Linked DNA regions of Homo sapiens: regions 2 and 3 are each linked to region 1. Evidence: fine-mapped expression QTL. A gene starts in region 1. Each other region holds a variant in brackets. All regions are shown on one strand. Distances are between the middles of the regions.

Region 1 (10,441 bases):
TATTCTTTGATTAGATGAAGCTTGTTCTTATGTTCCTCTGCATCTTCTCTCTTTCTCCCTTCTCTCTCTTGGGTTTTTTTTCTCTTTTGAACCGCAGTTCACTTACTATGTTTTCCAAGTGCTTTACCATCTGGGTTTGTCAATACCTCCCTCAAAGGATGGTGTCCAGACTTGAAAACTGAAAAAGATAGGAGCTGACCCTAAAGAATTTAAGGATTGTTCCCTCCATTATTCTTGAAAACCGCTGTTAAAACAGAATCCATAACCTTGGTTCAATTTCTAGAAGTATATTTGCAGCTCTGGCAAGATACTCTTGTTGCCAGTATCAATGCCCATCCAAATTTTTGTATCTGTCTAGATGCAGTCCCATGCTGCCCTTTGTGTGTTATTCCTGAGGACTACAGAATTCCTACAGCATTTTGTACCATGCATGGCTCTTACTTTTTTTAAAAAAAATTAAAAATCCTATTGAGTGCTTACTGAACACTGTTCTAAGAACTGGATTATGGTGGTAAACAAAAGGGACAAAATACATTGCCCTTGTGGAGCTTACATTATAGCTGGGAGAGAAAGGCAGTCAATCAATGGCAGGTGGTGTTAAGTGCTATGAAGACAAATAAGGCAGAGAGGGAGTGCTGAGAAGATTGCAATTTTAAATAGGGTCTGTTTTTATTTTAGCATTTAATTAAATATTTTACATGTCTTCCTATTTTTACTACTAGATTTTTAGCAACTAGAGATAGGGAAGTTTCTAATACCACTTTATCTGCCAGCATGCCCTACATGTACTCCACAGAACAGGAATCAAAACTACTTTCTGTGTTCCATTTAGGGGAATGTTTAGAGACAGGCCAATTCTAGTACTTACATGAAAGTTCTCTGAAAACTGTGAAATATTAAGCAGTTGTAAGGCAGTAGTAGAAGTGGTAATAGCAGCTGCAGCAGTAACATAAGCATAAAACATGTTTCCTACTTCAGGGATCACATGGAATATAAAATATATACACAAATAACTTTACCATGACACAGACTATATTAAATGCTATAAGTACAAAGAGGAGGCCCAAATAGCCAAGAATTTAAAAAAAAAAAAAAAAAAGCAACTTCAGTAATAATCAGAAAAATACAACTTAAAATGAGATTACTATAACACAGATTATCACTGCCAGAAAGGCTTAAAATGGGACTTAGAGGATAGGAAGGCCTTTAACAGGCAGACATGGTGAGGCTGGGCATTCTAAACATACAGGACCAGGTAAGCAGACTCAGAAGCAGGAACAAACATAGTGAGCATGCAGGTGTGTTGAGTCCAGGTTGGCTGGAATATAATCTATCTGAACGCAAGAGAGAAGCCCGAACTAAGAAGACTGAAGAGGCCAGATCACAGATCTCGTAAGCCAAACTAAGAAGTTTGGTCTTTACTCAGGACACAATGGAGAACGACTAAAAATCAAAGTTGTGTTTTCAGATGATTAACCTGGTTTTAATATTTAGAATATGCCAGAACTTAGGAAAAGCTGAAGGAGGAAACATCAGTTATGATAGTAAGACAACTAAAAGTTGACAAGGTCTAAGAAAGGAAAATGGCAGCCAGAACTGAAGAGGGGACCAGATGCAGAGGAAGTTTTGTCTTATGGACTGCCTGGATGGGAGAGCTACGTAAGAGAGAGAGACTAGAGAATGCCAAATTTTGATGACGGGGTGATTATTCACAACCCAGAAGCTAGAAGGAGAAATATATTCACTTTGAGGGTTAGCAAGCTTGCTTTTGGATCAAAAAGACTCCGAAAAAGATAAAAGCCACCCTAGAATGGAAAATTTAGGGAAAGACCATGGTCCCAGATCTTTCTTTGATGAAATCTTCACCCTGTTTGCTTTAAGTACTAGGGGTAGAAAACTAACCAGAAAGCATGCATCTATAAGGTTAGAGACTGTGTCTACCTTTTTCACTCCTCTATACACAGCACTAAGCAGAATGCCTGGCACACAGAAAGTTCAAAAACACTTGCAAGGTAGCCCTGTCACACAATGGATAGCCTTCTGAACTTCCAGAAAATACTTGCAGAATTAAGTGAATGAATGAATGAGCATATCAGGAAGCCAGCTTAAGAGAGGCTCTACTCTATGGTATAGCCCCTGAGCTGGAGGGCCCAATTTTGTCTTAAGCTCCAAACATTACATGAAACCAGTTTACACCACAACTTGCTATGTACCCATTTACTCTAACATACCACCAATTAGATTATGTACCCCATAATAAGTAGACAAGTTTTTTTAAAAATAATTTTAGCATTCTGATTATGCCCAGGGAACTGTTTCTTAATGTCCAACATTTTGTCTTGCTCAAATCACTTTATCTTTGAGCTGGGCAAAGGCACTGTTGTTATAGATTGTATATAATGAAGAAAATGTTTACTTGCCTATTAGAAACAAGACTGGGAAAGAATCTAAACATACTTCTTTTCTAACAAAAATTACTTTTTGAAATGCTGAAATGCTTTTAGGAAAAAAAAAGAAAGTGCACATGTAACTGTGGGCTATAGGCCTATAAAACACAAGTAATTTACTGAGATTTCCACGAGATTTCCATAAATAGCAATATAGTAAGTGGCAGTGTGATCTACATTTTCAAGTGAACAGGTTGGGTCTCACCTACCGGGCTTCCTCACCTGTTTGAGGGCCAAATGGGGTTTGTGGCGGCCCATTCTGTTGTGATTGCTGTAAAGGACTGCACATAACACATCTGTTTCTGCATCTAAGGTTTGGCTCTTCAGCGACAGTATGACGAGATGGCATTCTTTAATTACAGCTGCAATGCAAAGGTCTGAAGCAGAGACATCTAATAAGATTTAGTATGTATTTCTACAGTAAGTATATTATATTAAAAACACACTAAAAAAAGCATCTTTCCTTATTTGTTTTAAAGGAATCAAAAACTAATGTAATCAGTCTCAACTGTAAGAACGTAAGGATTCTAAGTATAAGAGAAGTTGGAAAATGGTAACAGATGATATAAAGTCCAGGAAATCATTAAGAGAACATCTGTAAAACAAGAAGCTGTATCTTTGCATTGCATTTTATCATGGTTTAATAATCTTTCATATGAATACTTTGCTGTCAGTCATTTGGTGTACACTTACGCCTCATGTGTACACTTAACCCCCACCTTGAAGGTAGGGCACATGTCACAACATGTGTAATAACTCTCTAACTCCCCATGTCGCTATGCCCGAAAGCAAGACAGAATGAATAAATTCACAGTCTTCAAAATCAAGGCTTCTGTGTTTGGATATCACTTTATGAGAGACACAAACATATTCAGAAAAGAAAAACCACCACAGTAACTGGAAATCGTATTATTTGATGAACACCGGGTGCTCATCAGCAGATGCTTCCTAGTCTGAAAATCTGTAGAAGTCCCTAAGATGTAGTTCATGTGTTATTTATGGCTCTAAAGGCAGCACTAGCATTCTAAATGGAAGTAAAGGCTGGTTGCTACCTAACAAGAATTTTCTTACTGTCCCAACAACTACCTGAAGACAGAATGGGCTGCCTCGGGGATGGGTAGTGAGTTGGTGAATTTCCCAGGCCTAATAGGAGTTGTTAAAGAATTTTTGAATAGAGAAAGAGGGAAGATTAATCTGTAAAGTGTGTAGGAAGGATAGATGGGATAATCTGTAAAGTGTGTAGGATGGATATATGGGAAAGGGGATGTGATGATCTAAGTCAAGCTTGTCCAACCCGCCTTATTTTGTTGTTCTGTTCTGTTTTGTTTTAGGCTTTTTGCAGCTTAAAGCCATGGTTTTTAGTTTGTCTCTAGTGAAAAGAGGGATGAGGAAAGGGCTTTACCAGCCCAACCGGAAACAAAGAACCCATGACTGTATTCTCTCCCTTGGGCCCCGGAGCTACGTATTTAATATTCATAACAGCTTCCATTTGAGTGTTCATTTACCATGCCAGGCAGTGTTCCAAATGCTTTCTCTACATTATCAACTCTTTCATCCCCCCAAACAGCCCTATGAGGAAGGTGCTTTTATCTCCATTTGAAAGTGAGATCAGTGAGGCACAGAAAGGTTCAATGACTCCTTCAAGCTCCAGCAAAGGGTAGAGCTAGTATTCAAACCCAAACAACCTGGCTCCTGCGCCAGGCTCCTACCTACTATATGCCCTTCACCCTAACAAATACCACCCATTTAGGTGGCAAAACACCGTCGTTTACAGCGCACTGTCTCCTAAATTACATCATTAGATATTCCCAACGCCCCTGTGAGGAGTAGGAGGACTAACTCCATTTCACAGATAAGCAGATAGAGGTCCGAAAAGATTGCAGTTTGAGTCCCAGTGCTTAGGTGACGTCCACCGCTCCTCGGGTACAGGAAAAAGAAGGAAAGGGGAAATGGACGGAAGGGTAAACAAGACTCCGAAGACCCGGGTGAGCAAGGGTTCCCAGGCAGCACTGTTCCCCGGCACCAGCTGAGTCCACCTCTCTCCGCCCCCTCAGCGCACGGCTGAGCCTTGGTCTTTCATCTCTCCAGCCAAGCCCTGGGTTAGCACAGCTGGTTCAATGAAGGAATGCGAAGCCAGAGGCCCTACAAGCTACACCAGCAAAGTGCTGGGACCGCTCGACCCCTACGTGCCCCGCGCCCCTTCCCAGCGTCCCCCGGGCCGGGAAGTCCCGGTACCACCCCCGCCCACATGCGCCGGCTGGGCCTGGCGGCCTCCCCCGGAAACGTTCCCCCATCCTCGCCCGGCGCCTCACTCACCAAGGGCCGCGCCGGGGTTCTGCACTGTCACTGCGCTGCGGTTCCCCGCCTTAGGGATTCTCACACGGTTCCACGGCTCCAGGCCCGGCGGCACCGCAGCCATCATGCGAGGCGGGGGGACTTACGAAAGGCGGAGCTACGCGAGAGCACGTCCAGCGACCGGAGGTGGGGCGATGGGACCCAGTCCGGGCCGGAAGGGAGCAGGGGGTGGGGCTCGGGCGGGGCCAGGAGCCCGGCGGGAGGCTGCCTTCATCGAGTAAACGCGTGGGACTGGGAAGGACCCAGTCATCTGTATATTGGTTACCAACACGTGGCCGCGTAGAATCATGGGGGAAAAAAGGCCCCATCCCAATACTAACCAACAGAATCTCTGAGAATGCGATGAGGAATCTGCGTTTTGTTTAAACTTAGCGCAGGGGATTCGGAAGCACAACCAAGTTTGGAACTGTTAAATACTTCTAGGCATTTTACAAATATGGAAAATGAGGCCCAGAATTGAGTTGGTGCTTTTACCCCCAACTCTGCCTCAGACATTAGGGGAAAAAGGAAGAAATGAAATGAAGAGGTTTGTGCAAGGTGTGGAATTTGTAGCGAAGAAGCAGTGATTTGCTTTGAGTGGTAAAGGAAGGCTCCTTTATGTCTTGAACCACAGCAAAACCGAGATCACATCAAAGAAACTTGGAAGACACCTGTCAGTCATTCCCACTTTTGTCAGTCTCCAAGACAAGATCATATTCCAAGCTCTAGTGATCCTTACCTCATTAATATCTTTCTAATAATTCATTTATCCTCAGCCATGCTAATGCCCCCTTAAGTTCTTAACACTCCCACAGTAACGTATTAGAAAAACAGTGAGTTTTGGAAACAGACTGCCAAGGTTCTAGTTCTAGCTTTGCTGTTTACTAGCTCGGTGATCTCAGGAAATTTACTTACCTCCTCCTCCAGACCTTAGTATCCCTGTGGGTAAAATGAAGATGATAATAATAGTATCAATCTCACAGACTTGTAAAATGCCAAGGCACTCCTGGCATACAAACAATGAACATTTACCATAGTTAATATTGTTGATGTTATTACTACTATTTCATGCAAGCAGTCTTACTTTATTGAAACACTTTCCATGCTCTTTCTGTGCGCCTTTACACATCTACCTACTCTACCTGGGTCATCCTCGGAAACACAATCTCCTTTCCTCAGCTCTGGGGTCGTCACTTGGGGTAATTCTTCCTAAACACCCCGTCCTCACTCCATAACTTGATACAGAGGCCCCTTTAATGTGTTACCACAGTGCCCTATGTTGGCCTATGTATTAGTTTTCTATTGCTGCTGTAACCAATTACGACAAACCTAATGGCTTGAAATAAGTAGAAGTTATTTTACATTTCTGGAGGTCAGAAGTCCAAAATTAATTTCAATGGACTGAAGTTGGCAGGGCTGGTTCCTTCCGGAATCTCTAGGGAAGAATTCATTTCCTTTCCTTTTCCAGCTTCTAGAGGCTGCCTTCATTCCTTGGCTCATTTCACTATCCTCCACCTTCATTGTCAGCATGACATTTTTCAGTCTCCTCCTCTTCCTCTGTCTCTCTCACCCTCCTGCCTGCCTCCCTCTTAAAAACACCCTTGTGATTACATTGAGCCCATCAAGATAATCAGGATAGTCACTCCATCTCAGAATCTTTAACTTAATCACATCTGTTTTAGAACTCCAAATTCAGGCTCATGTACCCGATGGGCAGCTGATGCCAAATATTGAGATACTGGTGCTTGGAGACAGAGAAATATTTATTCGATTTGACCAAAGTTAGAGGGCAAGAGAGCAAGATCTCTCAGATCCACAGTAACAAAAAAGAAGCAGGGAGTTTTTATGGAGCTAGAGAGTAATGGAGAGGGAGTTTCAAGGAATCCAAGGGAAAAGTCTGTGTTTCTTCCATTTCAGGTAACACCTTGTGCAGCCGTATGTACATGGCAGCTGGTTGCAATGTCCTTCCAGGAATTCATTCCTTCTGCAAACTATTCTTATGACCCTGAAGTTATCTCCTTCTGCTTGACAAAGAAACAGTACATCAGCAGTTTATAATTACATTGTGGGAACAAGGAATACTGGGCAAAAAGCGAGTGGTTAACATGTACAAGCAAGCAAGGGCCTGTTCAAAATTTTCATTATTTCATGCACACACACACACACACACACACACAAAAATGCTGGGGTGCTGAAATCTCAAGCAGCTGAAATCTCAAGGTTATATAGCTACAAAATCCCTTCTCAGTGCAAGGTAACATATTTACAGATTATGGAAATTAGCATGTGAACATCTTTGGGTGGGAGGTGGAGGGATCTTTATTCAGCCTACCACAGCCTCTCTCACAGAATTTACCTCGCTTTATTGTATTTCTTTGTTTACTTTCATGTCTATTTCTCCAATGGCATATGAACCTACTGAAAGCGAGAACTACCATTGACATAGCTAACTGGTCTTTCTATCTCAATGCTTAGTTCAGAGCCTGGCATATAGTAGGGCCTCAGTAGATATTTACTGGCTGTATATGAGGTTGGATGATGCTTGAATAGAGTCTTTTGAAGGATGAATAGGAACTCCCCAGGCAGTTAAAGGAAAAAGGATATTCCTACAGAGAGGTTTTAAGCAGCATGGGTTTGAAGAATCACTAGTCCTGAGTTGGTACTGCTGGGACGTGATTTGTGCTGAGGGGTGGAGCTGGGAATAGTGGTGTCAGTCAGATCATGGGAAGAATTTGGCTTTTTACCTGAAGACCAGTAGTTCAGAAACCTGGCTGATTATCAAAATTGCCTGGATAACTTAAAAATAGAGATTTTCAGGTCCCACTTGAAAATTCTTACTCATTAGTTCTGAGTAGGTCTGTTTTGAAAAGGTCTTTGTGATGGTACTCTAGGTTGACGTGTCCTTGCTATAGGTGATAAAGGAGTCACTCACTGAGTCTTAGGCAGAGCAATTTTTGTCAGCTTGCCTCAGAAGAAGAGCACCCTGGAGAACAGATTTGGGAGAGAAGAGGTTGGAAGTAAGGAGACCAGGCCCATCTGTTCTATTACAAAAGCTAAGGCCAGAAATGATGCAGACCCAAACCTTCAAGCATTTCTACTGGATATAGACAGTATGACTTATTTAGATGTCTAGCATGGGTGGAGAGTGTCCCTTATCTGAAATGCTTGGGACCAAAATTGTTTCAGATTTCCGGTTTTTTTTAGATTTTGGAATACTTGCAAATATACATGAGATATCTTGGGTATGGGACCCAAGTATAAACATGAAATGTATGTATGTTTCATATCTACCTTAAACACATGGCCTGAAGAAACTTTTATGTAATATTTTTAATAATTTTGTGCATGAAACAAAGTTTGTGTACATCTCAATCACCCATGTGGACAGTCTGTGGTTGTTTGGTGTCAACATCATTCCTGACTCTGAATTTATATGCTACTGTTTTTTTGTTTGTTTGTTTGTTTGTTTGTTTGTTTTTTGAGATAGAGTCTCACTCTGTTGCCCAGGCTGGAGTGCAGTGGCACGATCCCGGCTCACTGCAAGCTCCACCTCACAAGATCACACTATTCTCCTGTCTCAGCCTCCCGAGTAGCTGGGACTACAGGTGCCCACCACCATGTCTGGCTAATGTTTTTTTGTATTTTTAGTAGAGACGGGGTTTCACTGTGTTAGCCAGGATAGTCTCGATCTGCTGACCTTGTGATCTGCCCGCCTTGGCCTCCCAAAGTGCTGGGATTACAGGTGTGAGCCACCGCACCCAGCCTATATGCTGCTGTTAAGCAACCATTTTTTTCTCTTATTCACACATATGTGCTTAATAGTAAAAAAAATGATATACCATTAATACAGTGAAAATTAATGTGTTCAGGGTAACTTGTATCATCATGTCAGTACTCAAAAAGTTTGGCATTTTGGAGCACTTCAGATTTTGGATTTTCAGTTTAAAGATGCTCAACCTATTTACATATTTACATGTCTAGAATGATGATATGGTTTGGGTCTGTGTCCCTACCCAAATCTCATGTTGAATTATAACCCCCAATGTTGGAGGAGGGGCCTTGTGGGATGCAATTGGATAGTAGGGGCAGAAATCTCCCTTGCTGTTCTCATGATAGTGAGTTCTCAGGACATCTGGTTGTTTAAAAGTGTGTAGCACCTCCCTCTTTGCTCGCTTGCTCTCCTTCTCTGGCCATGTAAGATGTGCCTGCTTCCCCTTCACCTTCCTCCATGATTGTAAGTTTCCTGAGGCTTCCCCAGTTGTGCTTCCTGTACAGCCTGCAGAATTGTGAGTCAATTAAACTTCTTTTATTTATAAATTACCCAATCTCAGGTAGTTCTTTATAATAATGTGAGAATGGACTAATACAAATGACTTCCAGATTTTCACCTTAAGTTCGAAATATGACATTCAGAAGAAAAATAGATTTAGGGAGGTGGCAAGGGTGATAAGATAACTTTCGATATACTGAGTTTGAGATTGTCCATGGCTATCCACGAGAAAATGTGCAGTTCACCAGTTGAATAAATGGGACTATAGCTCAAAAGTGATTGCAAAGGGTTGAAGTAGAGACAATGAATATAAAACAATATTTTTAGTAGCTTAGATAGGAGGGAAAATGGAGTTTATTGGTGACAGAGAGATGCAGGATCAAGAAGAGTATTGTTTTGTTTTGTTCTGATTTTAAGGATAGTTTACTAGTCAGGATTCCACCAGCCTGTAGGGGTGGGTTGCCCCTACACACCTGTGGGTGTTTCTCGTAAGGTGGGACGAGAGATTTGGAAAAGAAAAAGACACAGAGACAAAGTATAGAGAAAGAAATAAGGGGACCCGGGGAACCAGCGTTCAGCATATGGAGGATCCCGCCAGCCTCTGAGTTCCCTTAGTATTTATTGATCATCTGTGGGTGTTTCTCGAAGAGGGGGATGTGTCAGGGTCACAAGACAATTGTGGGGAGAGGGTCAGCAGACAAACACGTGAACAAAGGTCTTTGCATCATAGACAATGTAAAGGATTAAGTGCTGTGCTTTTAGATATGCATACACATAAACATCTCAATGCTTTACAAAGCAGTATTGCTGCCCGCAGGTCCCACCTCCAGCCGTAAGGCGGTTTTTCCCTATCTCAGTAGATGGAGCATACAATCGGGTTTTATACCGAGACATTCCATTGCCCAGGGACAGGCAGGAGACAGATGCCTTCCTCTTGTCTCAACTGCAAGAGGCATTCCTTCCTCTTTTACTAATCCTCCTCAGCACAGACCCTTTACGGGTGTCGGGCTGGGGGACGGTCAGGTCTTTCCCTTCCCACGAGGCCATATTTCAGACTATCACATGGGGAGAAACCTTGGACAATACCTGGCTTTCCTAGGCAGAGGTCCCTGCGGCCTTCCGCAGTTTTTGTGTCCCTGGGTACTTGAGATTAGGGAGTGGTGATGACTCTTAAGGAGCATGCTGCCTTCAAGCATCTGTTTAACAAAGCACATCTTGCACCGCCCTTAATCCATTTAACTCTGAGTTGACACAGCACATGTTTCAGAGAGCACGGGGTTGGGGGTAAGGTCACAGAATCTCAAGGCAGAAGAATTTTTCTTAGTACATAACAAAATGGAGTCTCCTATGTCTACTTCTTTCTACACAGACACAGTAACAATCTGATCTC
Region 2 (10,441 bases), 54 kb before region 1:
ATCTTAATTGTTCTTCCTTCCAACAAGGAAATAAGTTGAAATCGTAAATATGAGATTTGTTTTGTAAAATCATGTTTGTTACTTATGAACCAGAATTTTTCTAGGGAACAAACTATTTTGCAGACATTTGAAATTTTAGGATAAAAGTTATTTATATTAAGGAACAACAAATACAAACTTAAACATGGATAAATCTCTAAAATAATGAATAAATGAAAGAAGTTATAAAATCATATACACAGTATGATTCCGTTTCTGCACCAATACCAAAAAAAGACAATATAAATGTTATTGTTTGGGATTCCACAAACACATGATAAAATGTAAAGAAAAGCAGGGAGTAACTATACCTCAAAGGGAATAACTATACCTCAAAAGATAATGACTACGTTTAACGCAGAGGTTGGGGGATATAACTGGGGAGGAAATGGCAGTAGTCTGTTCTTAACTGACATAAGTATTCACAGTATAATTATTATTTAAAATGTATGTAAATCAAATGCAATATATATTTTATGTTAATATAAAAGAAAACTAAAGTACAAAGAAATACAAAAAGTACAGATTAGTACTTACTTTTTTATTTTTAGCATTTTAAAACACAATTTGAAGAATTGATTATGCTGTATGTTTCATGTTCCGACACTTTATGAAACTGATTTTAATTTTTAAACACATCTAGTTAGTAGCAGATGTGAACACCAAATTAGATGTTCAGCAAAAAAAAGAAAGGCGGGCGGTGAAAACTCAAAGTTCTGGCAGAGACAATTATAGAAAAAAATTTCAAAATTAAAATAAGAAAAGTGACTAATATTTTGGCCCTTTCATTTATTACCCCTGGAATCTCGCAGGGGTTACTTTCTAAACCCTAGTTGCTTCATCTACATATATGAGAATGTAGTATCTGATACCACTTGCCACTCAAATTCCTGGAGGGAAAGATGATTATATATGTCATTGATAAATACTATTATAAGAACTAGCTAGCCATGTGGGAAAATAAAACAAAATCAGATTCTTATTTCACTTCTCATACCAAAATAAAATAAATAAAAGATTTAAATATAAGAAACAAAAACAAAAGTACTGGAAGAAAATATAAGTAATTTTGTTGTTTTTGTTTTTTTTAATCTTAAGAGACAGCCTGACTAACATCGTTGTTTGCCAGACTGAGAGGTTTCCTGGGATGCAGGACATTCCATGCTAAAACTAGGAAAAAAGTTCCAGGCAAACTGATGCAGTTTTTCACCTTCAATTAAGAAATCTTTCTAATCCTGATATAAAACATGGAAACCATAAAGAAAAATATTGAGAAGTCTGACTCTAGAGAGAATTTGAAACTTCTGTATGACAAAAAAGAAAAAGAAAAATACATAAAACAATGTTGCCAAGCAAAAACCTGGGGAATGTTTGCAACATTTAAAACAAAGAAAGATTAATTTTCTTCAAAAAATATGCTGAAAACACATGAACCAATAAAAAAAGAGATGGACAACTCAACTGAAAAAATGGGCAAAGGTATGAACAGGCTGACAAAAGATTAAATATGTTAAAGGTGACACAGTAATTATAATTCTACTCTTTAGGTACAACATAGGGATAAAAATAAAACATACAGATGGGTTATAAAAAGAAAGGTGAGAAGTGTTTAGAAAAGTAGGAAGTTTCAAAACAACAATTCAATAATGAATTTGATGGAAGGACAAAATTTAGAAAGCAGTAAGTATTATGCTAATAAATTTGGCCCTACTTTTTAAGGCAATATAAAGTCTGTGGCAGTTATTAGGGTGTATTGCTAATAAAAGCCATCTTACTGGCCTGTTTTGTTTTTTGGGTTTTAATTTTTGGTTTTGGGAGTATTTTTTTGAGGCAATTACTGTCACAAACTCCAAAACTACTTAATGAAGACAAACATGTTCCCTAACCTAAGGCAGATGTTGTGTAAATGTGTATCACTGATCACAAAGGACAATACATTCAATGGATATGTAGACACTGAATACATATGCATATTAACATATGCAAAGATATGTGTACCAGGATACTAATTCTAGCATTGTTTTCCAAAAAATCTGACACAGTTTTGAAACTGTAATTTAAAAAAACTGAAAACAACCAAAAAGCTGGTCTGTAGGGGGCTAATTAAATGTTATCAAATAATATACAAGAAGAGCTTTGAAAACCACAAAATATCATTAAATTGTCATTTTTGAATGCTTATAAATGAAGATGCAGCACTAAGTACTTTACCTGCATCATTGGGCTTAATCCTTATTGCCACCCCAGACACTAGGTCAGGGATTATAGGTAAAATGTCCAAATTTTATTATTAATTGGCAGCTAACTTTTTAAAAAAAATTACATGTATCAGCTAAAGTGTCTGCAAGCCAGATATAACCCATGAGCTGCCAAATTGCAGTCTCTGATGTTAGAGAAAAGGCCAAAACTAGAGCCTTGAAAACATTTATAATTAGAGATCTCTTGGAGGCATTGCACTTTACAAAAACAGTGAAGAAAAGTAGGATATAAATGCAATGCCACAAAGCCAAGTGATATGGTTTGGCTGTGTCCCCACCCAAATCTCATCTTGAATTCCCATGTGTTGTGGGAGGGACCTAGTAGGAGGCACTTGAATCATGGGGGCAGGTCTTTCCCATGCTGTTCTCATGATAGTGATTAAGTCTCACAAGATCTGACGGTTTTAAAAACAGGAGTTTCCTGCACAAGCTCTCTTCTCTTGTCTGCTGCCATGTAAGATGTGCCTTTCACCTTCCACCATTATTGTGAGGCCTTCCCAGTCACATAGAACTCTAAGTCCATTAAAACTCTTTCTTTTGTAAATTGCCCAGTCTCAAGTATGTCTTTATCAGAAGTGTGAAAACAGACTAATACAGCAAATTGGTACCAGAAGAGTGGGGCACTGCTGAAAAGATACCCAAAAATGTTGAACTGACTTTGGAGGGTAGCAGGTAGAGGTTGGAACAGTTTGGAGGGCTCAGAAGAAGAAAGGAAAATGTGGGAAAGTTAGGAACATCCTAGAGACTTGTTGAATGGCTTTGGCCAAAATGCTGATAATGATACGGACAATGAAATCCAGGCTTAGGTGGTCTCAGATGGGGATGAGGATCTTGTTGGGAACTGGAGCAAAGGTGACTCTTGTTATGTTTTAACAAAGATACTGCCAGCATTTTGCTCCTGCCCTAGAGATGTGTGGAACTTTGAACTTGAGAGAGATGATTTAGGGTATCTGGTAGAAGAAATTTCTAAGCAGCAAAGTATTCAAGATGCGACTTGGGTGCTGTTAAAGGCATTCAGTTTTATAAGTGAAGCAGAGCACAAAAGTTGATAAAATTTGCAGCCTGACAGTGTCATAGAAAAAAAAAATCCCACTTTCTGAGGAGAAATTCAAGCCAGCTGCAGAAATTTGCCTAGGTAACAAGGAGCTGAATGTTAATCCCCAAGACAAGGTGGAAAATGTCTCCAGGGCATGTCAGAGGCCTTCACAGCAGCCCCTCCCATCACAGGCCTGGAGGGTTAGGAGAAAAAAATGGTTTTGTGGGCCAGGTCAGGAGTCCATATGCTGTGTGCAGCCTAGGGACTTGGTTCCCTGTGTGCCAGCTGCTCCAGCCATGGCTGAAAGGGGCCAACATACAGCTCAGGCCATGGCTTCAGAGGGTGCAAGCCTCAAGCTGTGGCAGCTTCCATGTGGTGTTGAGCCTGCCAGTGCATGGAAGTCAAGAATGGGGGTTTGGGAACCTCTGCCTAGATTTCAGAGGATGTACAGTAATACCTGGATGTCCAGGCAGAAGTTTGCTGCAGGGGCAGGACTCTCATGGAGAACCTCTGCTAGGGCAGTATGGAATGGAAATGTGGGGTTGGAGCCCCCACACAGAGTCCCTACTGAGGCACTGCCTAGTGGAGCTGTGAGAAGAGGGCCACCATACTCCAGACCCCAGAATGGTAGATCCATTGACAACTTGCACTCTGCCCCTGTAAAGGTCACAGACACTCAATGCCAGCTCATGAAAGCAGCCAGGAGGGTGGCTGTACCCTGCAAAGCCACAGGGGCAGAGCTACCCAAGACCATGGGGACCCTCCTCTTGCATCAGCATGACCTGGATGTGAGACATGGAATCAAAGGAGGTCATTTTGGAGCTTTAAGATTTGACTGCCCTGCTGGATTTTGGACTTGCATGGGGCCTGTAGCCCCTTTGTTTTGACCAATTTCTCCCATTTGGAATGACTGTATTTCACAATGCCTGTACCCCCATTGTATCTAGGAAGTAACTAACTTGCTTTTGATTTTACAGGCTCATAGGCAGAAGAGACTTGCCTTGTCTCTGATGTGACTTTAAACTGTGGACTTTTGAGTTAATGCTGAAATGAATCAAGACTTTGGGGAACTGTTGGGAAGGGATGATTGGTCTTGAAATGTGAGGACATGAGATTTGGGAGGGTCCAGGGGCAGAATGATATGGTTTGGCTGTGTCCACATCCAAATCTCATCTTAAATTCCCACGTGTTGTGGGAGGTATTTGAACCATGGGGGCAGGTCTTTCCCATGCTGTTCTTGTGATAGTGAATAAATCTCATGAGATCTGATGGTTTTAAAAATGGGAGTTTCCCTGCACAAGCTCTCTTCTCTTGTCTGCAGCCATGTGAGATGTGCCTTTCACCTTCTACCATTATTATAAGACCTTCCCAGCCATGTGGAACTGTAAGTCCATTAAACCTCTTTCTTTTGTAAATTGCCCAGTTTCAGGTATGTCTTTATCAGCAGTGTGAAAATGGACTATTATACCAAGTAAAGAGGAGGTTTCAAGACAGGAAGAATCAAGATTAAATCATATGCAGAACAGTCTTAACCTAAGAATTAAGAAGCTTTGTGATTTGGTAACAAGAAGATCATCAGTGACCTTAAGATCTGAAAGAGAGTAAGTTTAACAAAGAAGTACAAGTGGAAACCAGATTGAAAGGGGCTGATCAGAGGTAATGGAGTCAACAAATGTAGACTTAAGTCTTTCAAGAATGCTGACCTTGAAAGAATGGGAGAAATGAGACTGGTTTCATCCTTTCATGTTAAACTTGAAAGAGAGAGAGATGGGGCAACATCAGGAGCTATGAGGGATCAAGAAGATATTTAACAGGCCAGGCATGGTGGCTCATGCCTGTAATCCCAGCACTCTGGGATGCCGAGGCAGGTGGATCACGAGGTCAACAGATGGAGACCATCCTGGACAACATGATGAAACTCCGTCTCTACTAAAAATACAAAAATTAGCTGGGCACAGTGGCGCACGCCTGTAGTCCCAGCTCCTCGGGAGGCTAAGGCAGGAGAATTGCTTGAACCCAGGAGGCAGAGGTTGCAGTTAGCCGAGATCGCACCACTGCACTCGAGCCTGGCGACAGAGTGAGACTCCATCTCAAAAGAAAAAAAAAAGATATTTAATAATAAAGGGGAACACAGCATGTTTGTAGACAGAAAGAGGGAGAGCCAGAAGTTACTAGAATGAGGAAGCTAACTGGTCAGGCAGGATCCCAGAGGTACTAGAAGGAATGAGACAAAAAGCAGGTTTGCTTTTAAAGAGATTGATATTTCATCTCTGAGAGGCGAACAAAAAGGTTAAGAATTATTACAGACACAAGAAACATTTTGAGGAAGCAGGTTAACAAACACTTGTTAGTACCTACTTAGTGGCAAGTAGCTCGGCAGAGCTCAGGGAATGGCAGCTTGAATGAGGCAAGGTTCCTGCTCTCAGAAACCTTACCATCTGTGGACATTAAAGAAGTCCACACTGGACAATGGTAAATCAGGAGGTGAGCAGCTGTCTGCAAAGGAAATGAGGATAGTTGGGGTGATGAGGAAACTAGGAAAGACCTAGAGCAGTGTTCTGAACCCTGGCACCCATCAGAAAACCCTGAAAAGACTTGTGAAAGTCTAGATCCCTATACACTGGAAAAGTCTGATTAAGCAGGCTTAAGCTCTATAGGCAATTTTAGGCTCTATAGGGAGTTCTGTCTGGCAACTACCTTAAAATCACTGGTTTAGAACCATCCCTGGGGAACAACTAGGGAAGAGCCAATTAAAGATAAGTAGGATAATTTTGTGAAGAATAAAAATAGCTAGATTTTATTATTGGGGATCTGTAAACATTTACCATTTGGACATTTTTTTCAAGGAATTATCAGCACCACAAAATGAATCATATAACCAGATATTCTCATATTATGTAATGGATAAACCTTTAGGAAAAGGTAGCATTCATGGTAAGGTAACAAAATGGCAGAGAAAAAGAAAAGAAATTACTGAACACCTTAAAACTACATAAACACATACTGGTTGGAAAAATATTTCTTCCAAATCACTGAATTTTCTCAAATAATATCCTTTGAACACATTCAGGTTTCCCCTATGTTGGTAGAAAAAAAAAAACTTTATTAGATGCTTACTTCCCCTTCTAGCTAGGATCCCTTCTCCTTTCTTTGCTGCCTAACTTCTTGAATGAGTGGTCTGTGCCCACAGCCTCAATTTCCTTCCCACTCACTCCCTCCTCAATACCAGCAATCTCGCTGCTCCCACGTCTATCTACTCAAACTGCAATTTTCAAGGTCACCAGCCCTTTTATAGTCAAGCTTTTGGCCTCTTTTCAGTGCTGGTGTTCCTAAGTTGTTGATGGATTTTAACACAATTAACCACTTTCTTCTCCTTCTAAAACCCCTTTCCTAGCCTTCCCACTACACCCATGCATTCCCTTCTCTGTCTCTTTCCCTATCTTCACTGCCTCCTCTCATATATTTTCTACAAGCTATCTTTCTCCTTGGGCATCGTAATGTCAGTATTCACCAAAGTCTCAGCTGCTTTTTCTCTTTACACTTTCTCTCCTCTTGCTCCTTAACCCCTTGAACTTCAACTAGATCTCTATACAGGTGATTTCCTCTTGTTTTCACCACTCCAGTCATAGTTTAGCTCCCTCTGTCCTTCATTAAGCCTGTTTGACCTGCCTGGAATGTTTATCCCTCAACTCTTCTTACCTCGCTGTTTCTGTTCATCTTCATCTTAAACATCACTTCCTTGGAGGAGCCTAACTTGATCCTCAAACCAGATTAGACTCACCAGTTACACATTTCTATGTCACCCTATATTTATCCTTATGCACTTGCGCATTGTTTAATTATTTGCAGTAATTGATTTAATATCTATCTTTCCCACCAGATTTAAATTCCATGAGAGCAGGACCTATGTCTGTCTTGATCAAATGTCCACAGCATGAAGCACAGTGACTGATACATGACAGACACTCTAAATTACTGGCTGACAGAATAACCCACCCACATTTTTGCTTTGACTTATTTTTCCTAAGCAAGAATCTCAAACATTTAGCTGAAATTTGTCCCCACTTGAATACTTGCTGTCATTTCAAGTGTATCACATCTAAAAGACATAGATTTTTCTCCCACACACTTGCCCCATCCCTTTCCCCTCTAATTTTTGTACTATGAAGGTGTTCAAAACTCAGCTCACACCCCAGAAAGCTGTTTGATATGATTAGCAATCCCACATACACACTTGGGCTTTATTTGCCCCATGTATAAAATGAAAGATTTTTAATTTGAAGGTTCCTAAAGTACTTCCTTTGTGAAGGCTTTATACTTCTTAATAGTGTCATACATCTTCATTTCACAAATGAG[G/A]AAATTACTGTCAAAAGAAGTTAAGCAATTTCTAAAGATGAAACAGCTAGTGGTTAGAATTACATAACTGATCTTTAGACCCAACACAGAGTTATATTTGTATTTAGAAATTGGTATCTATTGGTATCTAAATTAGTGTCTAGAAATTTTACTAGAAATTATGGGAAAGAAGAACGAAATTTTACTGAGAAAAGTGAAATGTACCAAAACATTCAATGCATGGGTAACATTTAGAAAGCAAAAAAGCATAATAATATATTCAATCTTAACATCCAAGACAATATAACCACTAAGTCAATATTAGTTGTAAAAATACAATAATATTTTAAAATATGTATATTTGAAGAAAGTTTCACTTCTTTATGGGCCAGTGAGTTTCCACAGGTAAGAACTATAAATTGTGGACAAAATATAAAAACAACTACCTGAGGTTACTGGAAAGTGGAGGAAGCAGAAAAATTCTTGAAGGGTGTCAATGCTTGGAAGAAGGAAATAGGGGATCAGAGTTGTGGGTGTAGGTTCCCATTATTTCCCCATTTTTACCGATGTTAGTCCCAGAGAGGGCTGCAGATGATACCACATTAGGCAGCTACTCTAATGGAAAGCCCACAGTTTTCTGAAGAACCAGCAGGCAGATTTTAGGGCAACTTTACTCTCTGAAAAGTGACAGAGTCAGAGTAAAAGAGTTCCAAATTCTGCATACACTCTACCCATATCTCTGATGACTCTAAACCACACATTGCAGGTCACAGTCAAAGCAGATTAGCTACCAGTAAAAGAACTCAGATTTGAGATGCTGTCCAAGGGGTAGAGTTTGCAGTTTGGGTCCAACCAAGTAAAATATCAACACAGCAATATAACAGAATCTGTGCAACATTCAAAACCCAAATAAAACTATTTAATTTACAAAGAACCAAGAAAATGTGGCCTATGCTTAGGAGAAAATACATTAAGGGAGACTAACAACTTCAAGTTGACCCAGACACTCGCATTCTCAGACAAGAGTCTTACAGCAACATTCAGCTATGCTTAGTGACATAAAGAAATATATACTCACAATGAATGAATAAAAACACAGAAAAATCTCAGCAGAGAAAAAAAACTTTTAACAAATAAATGGAAATCTTAAAATTGAAAAATACAATATCTAAAATAATATATTAACTAGGGCTTTACAGAAGAATGAAGAGGAGAAAGGAAATTGTAATTGTCAGTGAACTTGAATATATAGCAATAGAAATTATTCAATCAAAAGAACAGAGAGACAAGATATTGGGGAAAATATGTATAAAAAGGGAACTAAGAACTAAGAGAACTCCTCACTAGCAGACCTACACTACTAGAAACAATAACAGAAATTATTCAGGATGAAAGAAAATAATACCAGGTAGAAACTTGGAAATTCAAGAAGGAATTAAGAGTATTAGAAATGACAACTAGAGTGGACATAGTATGTGCCACCAACAGTTGCCTCTGACTTTTTGTTCCTGCCACTAGGATCACTGTCAACAGACAGTCTTCAGTTTTCAGCCTCTCCAGGGATGACTTCAGTTACTTAGACCAAAGTCAGACCCTTTCCAGGGGAGCCCATATCCAACGACTGATTTAGATGGAGTTATAAAGGAACAGCCATTTTTATTCAATGCAGGGCCTCTCTAAGGCCAATCTAGCTCCTGAGCTCCCTGTGGGGTCAGTGAGGGTGTCAGTTGGTTGAGATTGCAGGTAGACTTCTCCCTCTGCTCACAAGCATACTGTACACAAAACTCTATCTCAGAGTCTAACTTCCAAGAGAACCTGCAACAGCAACAATAACTCAAAGTAACAGACATTTTTGAAGAAAATTATTTCTTCAAAAGTGGAAAAACTGGCCAGGTACAGTGACTCACGCCTGTAATTCCAACACTTTGGGAGGCCAAGGCAGGAGGATTGCTTGAACCCAGGAGTTCAAGACCAGCCTGGGCAACATGGGAAAACCCTGTCTCTACAAAAAATACAAAAAAAAAAATTAGCCTGGCGTGGTGGTGCACACCTGTAGTCCCAGCTACTTGGGAGTCTGAAACAGGAGGATAACCTGAGACTGGGAGGTCAAGGCTGCAGTAAGCCATGATTGCACCACTGCACTCCAGCCTGAGTGATAGATAGAGTAAGACCCTGTCTCAAAAAAGAAATAGAAAAACTTTTAGCCCTGCTTTAATCCTGGAACTTTTTGGTATTGCTTTCCTTAAAGATTTTGGTCCTAGAATGGGGTCTAGGCATATAAATTCTATGTAGAAAAACTCTGAAGTTGTTGCTTAGTGTTAATGCATGAACAATATCATTTCTTCCTGGGGGGAAAAAGGGCTGATTGTGACTGTGTCTATTATATGAATTATATAAATCAGTGATATTTATTACCATTATTATTATTTAAAAAGTAATGATTGTTGACTTGATTCTTAGGGCCTACTAGCATCACATAGTCCAAAGGTATTTTATAACCACAGATCTGCTCCCAAATCCCAGTCAGCAATTGACAAATGTATGTGAGTGATAATAAGGCAGAAGAGGTAAAAACATGTTGATGGCTACTACATTTTTCAGACACAAATGGTTTTTCAGACACAAATGGTTAATTTTTCAGACACAACATAAAATCAAACAACAACTGGGTCATTTTATTAACTAAATGCCATTAACTGAAATATTCATGACCTTATTGGGAGGAAATTTATCTACGGTAAACTCTCTCATTTGTTCCCATTACCTTATTGCC
Region 3 (10,441 bases), 41 kb before region 1:
ACACATCTTGAAGATAAATACAGACATACATCACAGACGCACCACTGTAACTGTAGGCATATTATATTTTTGAAGTGCCTAATCATCGAAAGTGACAGAAAGCAATAAACTGTCCTAATCTATGCCACTGGCAATGTGGACCTAAATGAGTTAGCGTTCTTATCTTAAAAAAAAAAATTAAGAGAGAAGAGGCTGGGTGCAGTGGCTCATGCCTGTAATCCCAATGCTTTGGGAGTCTGAGGTGGGAGAATTGCTTGAAGACAGGAGCTCAAGACCAGCATGGACAATATAGCAAGACTCTATCTCTACCAAAAATTTTAAAAATTAGCCAAGCATAGTGGCGCATATCTGTAGTCCTAGACACTCAGGAGGCTGAGTGGGAGGACTGCTTGAGACCTGGAGTTACAGGCTGCAGTGAGCTACGATTGCACCACTGCACTCCAGCCTGGGCAACAGAGCAAGACCCTGTCTCAAAAAAGGGGGTTGGGGAAGAGAATAAGATAAAGAGAACCTAACTGACTTTGATTGCTGCTAGTATGTATTTGATTTATCCTGCCTTGTTCAAAAAACAGGAGGAAATAAGGAAATGGACAGTAAGACAAATTATAGAGATCTGTATATTGTAGTAGGATACAAAGTACAACAAGCAAGACACCGGAAAAAAGGATAATAAAGTAAACTAGATATGGGAGTAACCCATATTTAGCAACCCCCTATATTTATTATTGCAATTGATTTGTATTGCCCCAGAAGAAAGACAAAAAATAAACTCAGGAAGAGCTGAGACCAGGTTTCTCACTGTTCTCCCAAAGAGAATTCAAACTTACCGGCCACTAAGAAGATAGTCAAAATCAACAGTAGCCCTAGGTTAGCAGTTCTCCAAGGGCAGAGCATTTCTGTTTTCTCTTTTTCTGCCCTTCACTCAGTACTTTTCCTCCACACAGGTACAGAAGGAACTGTGCGCATGGTGAGACCCTCTCTGGTCAACTTCTCAGTACAGGATCCTCTTACCCCATCAACAGTGGGGCACTCCCTTCCTTCTAGCCCCTTCCTTCACGTCTATGTGGTTTAGCCTGGTTAGTAACTTGGACGAACAGAAGCTTTTCTCTGGAACTTGACACAGCAATAGATTTCCTGTATGAAGCCCTGAAGCAAAGACGGAGGAAGCAGATTGATTGAATTATCTCTCAGCTCATTGGTTCTCCTCTCACTTCTGCTGTACACAGACAAACTTTACAGTAAGGCATTGAACGTGTCCAAGATAAACAGATTTGTCTAAACTTGCACCAAAAAGTAAAACAGAATATTGATCTACTTTGGCCCATCCTTGTAAATTTCCCAATTATGATGACTTTTAGAGGCTTTCTCCAGGTTGAAGAGCTTTACGGCCTTAGTATTTGAGTCTGGAATACAATATGTTTTCTTGAAAATTATTGTGTGAAATTCCTGTCTATAATGGGAGTCAACACACAACCCTGTAAACATCATATGTGTATTAGTTTCCTATTGCTACTGTAAGAAATTACCACAAACTCAGTGGCTTAACACAACACAACATTTATTATCTTACAGTTCTGGTGATCAGAAGTCTGAAATGGATCTTAGGGGACTAAAATCAAGGTGTTGGAAGGGCTGCACTCCATCTGGAGGCTCGGGCAGAATTTGCTCCCTGCCTTTTCCAGCGATTTGAGAATGCCTGCATTTCTTGGCTTGCAGCTACATCATTCGGACCTCTGGTCCACTGTCACATCTTCTCTGACTGTGACCCTTATGCCTCCCTTTTATAAAGACCTTGTGATTATTTTTGGTCCACCCAAATAATCCAACATGATCTAATTTCAAGATCTTAATTTAATCACATCTGCAAAGTCCTTTTTGCCACACAAGGTAACATTCACAGGTTTCGGTAATTCGGACATAGGTATCTACCTTGTTGGGGGTGAGGGCATTCTGTTTATCAGAACTCAGTACTTATTGCCATTCAGTTTCACCTTTGGAAAATTAGACTGATCATTTTAACCAAATTACAAATAATCACCCATCTCTTAGTTGCCACACATCTGGAATTCAGACTCCCCCTAACCAAAAAAAAAAAACAACAACAACAACAAAAAAACCTCTTCCTTACTGTTGCTAGTTACTATGTTACTATGCTTTTAAGTTATGTCTGAGAGAGGGAAAAATCTTCTATGTGCTGAGAATTTTCTGCCCCAAGGCAAAACTGTACAGGAAGGGGAAGAAAACATTGCAAACAGGAAAAAGATTAAACAGCATGCATTTTTTTTCTCAGTTAGCAGTTTCATCTTCCTTCTTGCCAAACATTATAAATATTTCCCCCCTTCCCCTTCTCAAGCTTTTTTTTCCAGTTAATTAATTTGATGAAGACAGTGAAACCAGATCCTTGAGGGCATGGAACACTTAAGGGTATGAGCTGTGACAATGGGAAGACCAAAACAAAAATGTCTTCTCTTCTGTCTAATGTTTCACCAGGTGTCGGAAAATTAGTGAGAATACATCATTTAAAATACAGATAATATTCTGGTTTTCCACTACATAGAAGTGAAAGTTGGCCGGGAGTAGTGGCTCATGTCTGTAATCTTAGGACACTGGGAGGCCGAGGCGGGCAGATTGCCTGAGCTCAGGAGTTCGAGACCAGCCTGGGCAACATGACAAAACTCCAAACTCCATCTCTACTTAAAAAAAAAAAAAAAAATTAGCCAGGTGTGATGGCACTCATCTGTAGTCCCAGCTACTTGGGAGGCTGAGGCATGAGAATCGCTTGAACCCAGGAGGCAGAGGTTGCAGTGAGCAGAGAGAAGTTAAAGTTAAAATTCACACTCGCTTAGGATACAGATAGACATAGGGTTAAGTCTCTGTTGTGCAATTACTAGTCCAGTGA[T/C]ACTGGGAAAGTTTCTTACTCAAGTCTGTATCTGTTTATATTATATTGACATTAGCTTTTTCTCATGTCATCAAAAATTCTTGGAGATCATTTATTTTAATATCTGCTCAATGACATAGCCAAAACTAAACCACAGAAGGGCTAAATGGCCTGTGGCCTCAAAACAACTTATTGGCACGGCTGGGAATAAAATGTGTTATATTTCGTAGCCCTGTGTTCTTTTCACTCAACTCCTCTACTTTGAAATTTCAGGCAACAACTTTCATAGACACACTCCAATGCACTCACCTGAGGTCAGACCACAATCTGCAATCAGCAGTTTAAGAATCAAGTGATGGGTATCAAAAACCATAAAATTCACTAAATAGATTTGGCAGGATGACAGTTTCTCTCCCTGGTCCCTCATCCTCTCCACCCCCAAATCACATGCCTGTAACCTCTCAACTCCCACCTTCTACCTTTTATGGACCATGAATGTTTAAAACAATAAAGGGACTAAAAGTTTGTTAACATAATCATCCACTAAAGACATGCCATGAAAGTCAGTATAATAAGAGAAAGATGTGTCTGGTAAATACACCTCTCTAAAAAATCTAAAGGCCCCAAATTCTCCCTGGTTGCGGCCCTTGGGCACAGGACCCAGGAAGCAAAGCAAAAGAGTGAAAAAGGATCAAGAAACAGGTGTCATTCAAACCAGAAACCCAAACCTTTTACTCTACCAGTTTTCCAATTCTCCTTCAATAATACCAGTTAAGAATCATAGCATAAGAGAAACAAACAGGACAATGTAATGCCAGTTAATGTTGTAGCCAAAACAAAAAGACAGAGAAACTTTAGTAAATTAGAACTACTTTAGGCCATAATGCCCCCAAACCAGCATGGCTGGTTTACTCAATTTATCAATTGCAATAAACTGAAAATTGATGTAATAACTATAAATGTTGTTGAAGTAAACTTCTTCCAATCAGGTGTATATCTTTCTCTCCAATGTCAGATTCAGACTTAGCCACACTGAAACCATTTAAGATGAAGTGTTGCAGCCTTCCTCTTGGGATTCCTCCCCATTATGTAGAAGATTTGCATGGCTCTTGAATACTTACTGCAAAGATTCTATGGACTTTTATTCCTGACTTCTCGTTCCCGGGACCCTTTGCTCCCCAGTACCATTGCCGACTCATTCACCTCTTATATTTGAGTCTTGACTGCCGAGAACTTCAGCACCTGCCTGCCCTTCCTACCATAGCTGAATTTTCTGGATGTGCATTCTTGCAAAATGGGCCAATAACTACTTGCCTTGTCACTGTTACTTTTGGTGAACTCTCTGGCTTAGATATCTGGCCTGACTTACCCTTCTATACACTTGCATGTGTGCACACACAAACATAACACACACACACACGCTCACACAAATATGCTAGCGAAACACTTAGTCCTAATTCCCTCAATCTACTCTGTCCTACTGCTAGCCAAGTGGTAACATGCCAATTTCACAGAGGTAAAAAGAACAATACCGAATAGTCTAAAGAATTTCAAGGGACTCAAACTCTACAGCACTCCACTCTTGTCTTTACTTCCTCTCTGCTCCCTTGTACAATAACTACAGATCTGAATCTAATGAATTACCACAGAAATGCTATAATTCAACATACAGTTGCATAAAAAGACTGCTTTCCTGGGCATATTCCATTTTCTATTTTCCAATTTACCTCTCTGTAACCTTCATTGACCCATGCTCTCAAGACTCATCTGAAATCCTGTATCTTCCTCCATGGACAATCATTAAATAGACTAAACAGTAACTTAAAAGAGCCTCAAAAAATGCATACTTCTATTTTTATACCTACTATTATATTGATTTTTCTTGAAAATTTTTACTCCTAATATATGGTTGATCTACGTCAATGTATAAAAAGTCTTCTTAAAAAGTTAGAAAAAATATATCATATTGGAATTAATGATTATTTTTTATTATAATTTTACAGATTATACAAAAAGGAAAATTGAGAAATAGATGTTTGAAAATCAAATGTGTGCAGTATCAAAATAAGCAAAATCAGAGTAGAGAAATTAGTAATCACATTTTATATTTAGCTAAATATCAACTGTAAATCTCACTGGTCAGATCCATAGCAAGTATTTGTCAAGCCCTAAGCTTAACACCCTGATCTTGTTCTAAGCAGTTTATAAATATTACCTAATTTAATTATCTCAACAATCCTATATAGTAAATACCACTTACCATTGAGGAAACTCAAAGCAGAGAGGTTATGTAAATTGTCAAAAGCCACACAGCTGATAAGTGATAGAAACAGGATTCAAGCCCAAGAAATCTCACTCCAAAGTCTACTTCTTAAACTATGTGGCTAATTAGTCTCTGCTTTACTATCTACTTTTTTGAAGGTGGTAACTCTGTTTTGTCTCCAATACATCTCCCAGGTTCCTAACCCCTACTGACTCTATTTATGTACTAATTCACTCTTTCTTCCTTACCTGCTCAAAATTGGTCTGTTTTGTTTAAATAAATAAGCAAACCCTGTGCTGTTTCTAATCATCTATTTGCATTAAGATTACTCTCTGCTGCCCCCTGGAGATAATTTGGTGAAATCAATGCTAAGATTTTTGTAAATTTATCTAGCAAATTCAAAAATAGCTTCACATTAAGATTTTGATCACAAAGTATGCTAACATGCCTAAATGTTATACATTTAATTTACATCTTTTGGAAACTGCTGCAACATAACAAATGACTACCTGATGGATAGTACAGATATTATACCTTGAAGAAATGTTGCTGAAAAAAACAAAAATGAATCTTTTGAGTTGCCAGGATGGTTTAATAAAACAACAGTGCTGCCAGGCATGGTGGCTCATGCCTGTAATCCCAACATTTTGGGAAGCTGAGGCAGGAGGATCACTTGAGCTCAGGAGTTTGAGACGAGCCTGGGCAACATAGTGAGAGCCCATCTCTATAAAATTTAAAAATTGTTTTAAAAGCAGCAGTGTAAAGAAATGGATAAATGGATGGATGGATGGATGGATGGATGGATGGATGGATGGATGGATAGAAGATAGATTCCCTATCTCATTGCATGAAAATTTGCAAAGATTGCCACCTTTGGGTACCCTGGAATGCAAACTCCAAGACGGAGTTTAATGTGAAGAATTGTTATTATATTAAGGAGTAACCTCAGATCATCACTTGGGGATAAGAAGGAACAGAAACTGATGTGGGTATAGGGAATCACACTATATGGTAGGCCCACACCAGAATCAGCTAGCCCTATGGGGAGCTATAGAGCTGAAACTGCCCCTTAGAGTTGTCCTCTGTTGTCCTGAAATGGGCAGATCTTTACACTTCTGCATCTATGAGTCATTTGTTATAGCCACGGGAAAGACCATGACCTTGGGTAAGGAAATCCATGAAGAGGCCAATCCCTGAACTGTGGAAAACACTGTCAACACTGGAGCAACAAAGTCCTTCAATGAAGGGGGTTGATGGTACCCCACAGTGTTTGTCTGCCAATTGAATAAATGTTGGAAAATAATCCACTCTAAATCTAGTCTCAAATGCAATGATATTCCACTCAGCCAATTGTCTTTCATTCCCAAGAAACCAAATTAATGGAAAATCTTGTCAAAAATATAACCTTGAAGTAGCTCTGCATTAAGATATTTTCTCCCTGAGGCAGTCAGGTAATTTTCATCTGTAAGTGTCAACTGAGAAATCCAGAAGATATGGAAATAAATTTTTTAAAGGAAAAGCCCAATCATATACCTTGGCTAAAAACTAACATCAAGGCAAAGCATGCTGAAGAGAGACAAGTATCATCTGATCTCCAGAACACCCTAATATTAAAGTCAAGAAGAGCAGAACATTTTAAAAAGAAATAGTCTAGACTGAGCCAAGTGGGTTTACCTTAAATGTCTCAGACAATATTAATTGATAAGCAAATTAGTTCTATATAACTTTCTAACAAAAGAATATGAATCATGAAAATTATGTCAGTCATAGAAGCTTATATTTGCCTGAAATTTTATTCAAATTTTATTGGGCCTTTCTCAAAGAAATGATAAATGTTCTGTTGATCCATCACAGTTTTATTTTATCAATGGCTTATTTTGTCCCCAAATTTGACCATCCTGTCTATCTTTTATAAGATAATGTAATGTTTTCAGTGAATAACTGAAAAATAGTTTAAGTTGGCTAAACTCTAATTAGTTACAGTTGGAGTTTAAGAATGTCACAATTTTTTATCTAATTTTGAGAGGAGCTGTTAAGGTTATGGCTCCTAAGTTGAACTTCTGGGTTCAAATTTCAGTTCAGCCTCTTAGTTTTGGGTTACTGTGTTGTTTTTTTTTCTGTTCTCAGATGCTATTTGATTTTTTCGAATCTGCTAACATTTTTGTAACTTTAGTTTTCCACCAAAACTTTTAGTCCTTTGTCTCCTGAAACATAAAAATAATATTTTAAAGTCTCTGTCTGATCATTCCAATATTTGAAGTAATGGTGGGTAAATCTCTATTGGTTCTTTCTGTGATGTTTGGTCTCCTCATGTGCCAGGTATTGTGTTTTCTTTCTCAAATTGCAGAAAAACTGGAAATTATTTGAGGCCCTGCAAAATTTTGTCTTCCTCTGGAGATTTTCATTTGCTTCTGCCAGGAGTCCATAAACAGTAGCAATCAGGAGTCACCTTAATCCAGTTTTAAGGACTAGAATTTTCTGTGCAATCAGATGACTCAAAGGTAGGTTGCAGTCTATGTGCTATGGCTTGAATGTGTCCTCCATATTTCATGTTGGAAATTAATCCTCAAACTTATATGTTGATTGGAGGTACAGCATTCGAAAGGTAAGCAGGATTAGATAAGGTCATCAGGTTGGGACTCCAACGATGGGACTGGTGGCTTTCTAATAAGAGGAAGAGAGACCTGAGCTGACATGCACACTCTTCCTCTCTAACCATGTGATACCCTTAACCATGTTATGATGAGCAAGAAGGCCCTTACCAGATGCCAGCCCCTCAAACTTGGACTCTCCAGCCTCTAGAACTGTGTAGGAGATAAATTTCTTTTATAAATTACCCATTCTGTGGTATTATGTTATAGTAACACAAAACAGCCTAAGACACTATATAAGGGGTGATTTTATCGTCCACTCCATCCTATCCCAAACCACTCTTTCTCATTTCAAGAGGCTACAAAAGGTACTGCTCACCTTTCAACTAGCTCTTCTATATCAATCAGTAAACATCTCAAGGGTAAATGTAGTTCCAATGCCAGTTTCATCAATCTGTATTTCTTTCTTTTTCTGAATCTTGGTGAGGTAATTCTTCATTACCTTGCTAGGTCACTGATCTGCCATCCAGTAGACTTTTAAAATGATTATGTCTAGATTTTCTAGTTGGCTTGAGAGGGAAGATTGATCTAAATTTCTTAGTCTGTATCACCTGATGTAAAAGTCCAATTCCTTGATTCTTTGCTTTTCCTCATCTATCAGCAAGTCTTTTTGGTCTCTACTTTAAAATGTTTCCTGAATTTGACCATTTCACATCATCTCCACTCTACTGGATTAGAAAAAGAAGGATGCAGTTACAGCTTCAAAAGCATGGTTTTTAAAACTAAAATACTGTATCATTTAACTTGCGGGCAGCAGCAAAAAGGTAAACAGATACCAGAAGCCACAGAACACTTGTGTTTCGTGACTGCTTCCATTTTACCACAACTTTCTGAAATGCATTTTATTAAAGTCGTTTTTATTTTGGTCACTTGTAGCATTGATTATGTTGTTGAAACATAAAAGCTCAGATATTCCATACAGGAAATTTAAGAATTTTAAAAGTCTGAAGGCCTATATTAAGACTTTTTTCTTAAAATCATTTATGCTCCATTGACAACTAAGTTATGCTTTTATGACTATTTTCCTACTAGTGATCTTTCTTTCTTATATGCTTTCTTTTTACTTACTAATATACTACCAATAACTTGGAGTGATTTAATGTGATTTCAAAATGTGTGTAGGGGAATTTTCTAAAGAATACTGTTATGATTATCTCACCTTGGGAAAAGAAGAAGTAGGAAATATGAAACTGCTGAAAACGTTTGAATGTTGAATGTTCTGTATTGAGAAAAGGAAGTAGATAAGATCTTTTTTGATTTAATATTTCTATCTTTTACTTGGCTAAATATGATAAAGCAATGAAACCTGTAAGAAGTAGTGCTCTGCTTCCTAGTCAAAGTATCTTTAATTCTGGAAATTTTCAGCAAATTTCCTCCTTTTACTTCATTTTTTTCAAGTACTCCTATAATATTGTTTGGTTTGCTTTTGTTTTGTGTTGTTTTGTTTTTTGAGACAGAGTTTTGCTCTCTCACCCAGGCTGGAGTGCAGTGGTGTAATCTCAGCTCACTGCAATCTCTGCCACTCAGGCTCAAGAAATTCTCATGCCTCAGCCTCCCAAGTAGTTGGGATTGTGGGCGTGCACCACCATACCTGGCTAATTTTTTGCATTTACAGTAGAGAAAGGGGTTTCATCATGTTAGCCAGGCTGGTCTCCTACTCCTGGCCTCAAATCGATCTGCCCACCTCGGCCTCCCAAAGTGCTGGGATTACAGGACCAAGCCACCATGCCCAACTCTTACAATACTGTTATTTAAATTTCTTCTTTTCACCTTCGCAGCTCTTAACTTTTAAATTCTTTATATTTTTTATCCCTTCCTAATATTTATTGAAATATTCTCCAATCTAATTATCCTGCTATTTTGTTCTTTGAGTTGATAATATTATTCAACTATTAAACACATCCATTGAGAAATTTACTTCACAATAATATAATTCATATCTAATATGTTCAACTGGTACTTCTTAGAAGCTTCCTGTTTCATGTTTGCCATATATTCCCTTATCTCTGAGGATATTTTCTGTTTTTATTTAAATTCTTTGCCCACCAAGTCCATTCATTCTGATTACTTCTAGAATGAATTATCTTTTTCTTACTTTTTCTTCTATTGCTTGTGGGTTCATAATGTGAGTTCGTGAGATTATACTATTATGGTAAAATCAGCTATCTTTTAAAAAAAATCAGCTATCTTGGTAAATAACAGATACCTAGAGAGAGGAGTGAAAGGCTAGGTTCTGACTTGCACTAGTCTAGGCAGAAGAGAGATATATCACAGCATTCTGGGCTCAACCACTCGTGCGCCTGCCACCCATGAGATCCTGCCTATTAGGTAACCACCTAGTACCACTACACCAGGCATTATTCCTTTCTAGAGAGTAATCACAAAACATTGTTTGAATCTGATTGTCCAGCCCCTAGAGGAGGATGGGTAAGGAGGTTGGAGGGAATGTTCAAGGACATTGCTGCACTCAACTCCAGCTAAACCTGATGTTCATACCAGTTGAATCACCAATTCATTGCACTCCTCTCCAGAGGCCCCATACTTTATTACAGGTGGCTGAGACAGCAGCTTTGATTATAACCTCCTTCCACAGGAAGAATTCTAGTTTTGCCATGTCCTATTAAAATGACTAGAGAAAGTCTGTCCCAC

Evidence for each region.
Region 2: its variant is fine-mapped to the expression of RMP64 in whole blood (TOPMed, PIP above 0.99). The same link has a PIP of 0.9 or more in neutrophils.
Region 3: its variant is fine-mapped to the expression of RMP64 in blood mononuclear cells (TOPMed, PIP 0.92).

What each region holds. Positions count from the first base shown.
Region 1 is chr3:113,014,779-113,025,219 of GRCh38, forward strand. It overlaps RMP64 (ribonuclease MRP subunit p64), which reads right to left and starts at 4,893. Exons shown (of 9, transcript NM_015412.4): 1 at 4,764-4,893; 2 at 2,670-2,824. The coding sequence starts at 4,869. NEPRO-AS1 (NEPRO antisense RNA 1) reads left to right here and starts at 4,740. Exons shown (of 3, transcript NR_186663.1): 1 at 4,740-4,928. RefSeq lists an enhancer at 4,342-4,411 and a silencer at 4,572-4,681.
Region 2 is chr3:112,960,335-112,970,775 of GRCh38, forward strand. All of the region lies in intron 1 of CD200R1 (CD200 receptor 1), which reads right to left. Among named protein-coding and RNA genes, the nearest start is that of CD200R1, 9.5 kb to the right of the region's middle. The variant G/A (reference allele first, on the strand shown) is at 7,690.
Region 3 is chr3:112,973,964-112,984,404 of GRCh38, forward strand. It overlaps CD200R1 (CD200 receptor 1), which reads right to left and starts at 1,140. Exons shown (of 8, transcript NM_138806.4): 1 at 828-1,140. The coding sequence starts at 894. The variant T/C (reference allele first, on the strand shown) is at 2,900.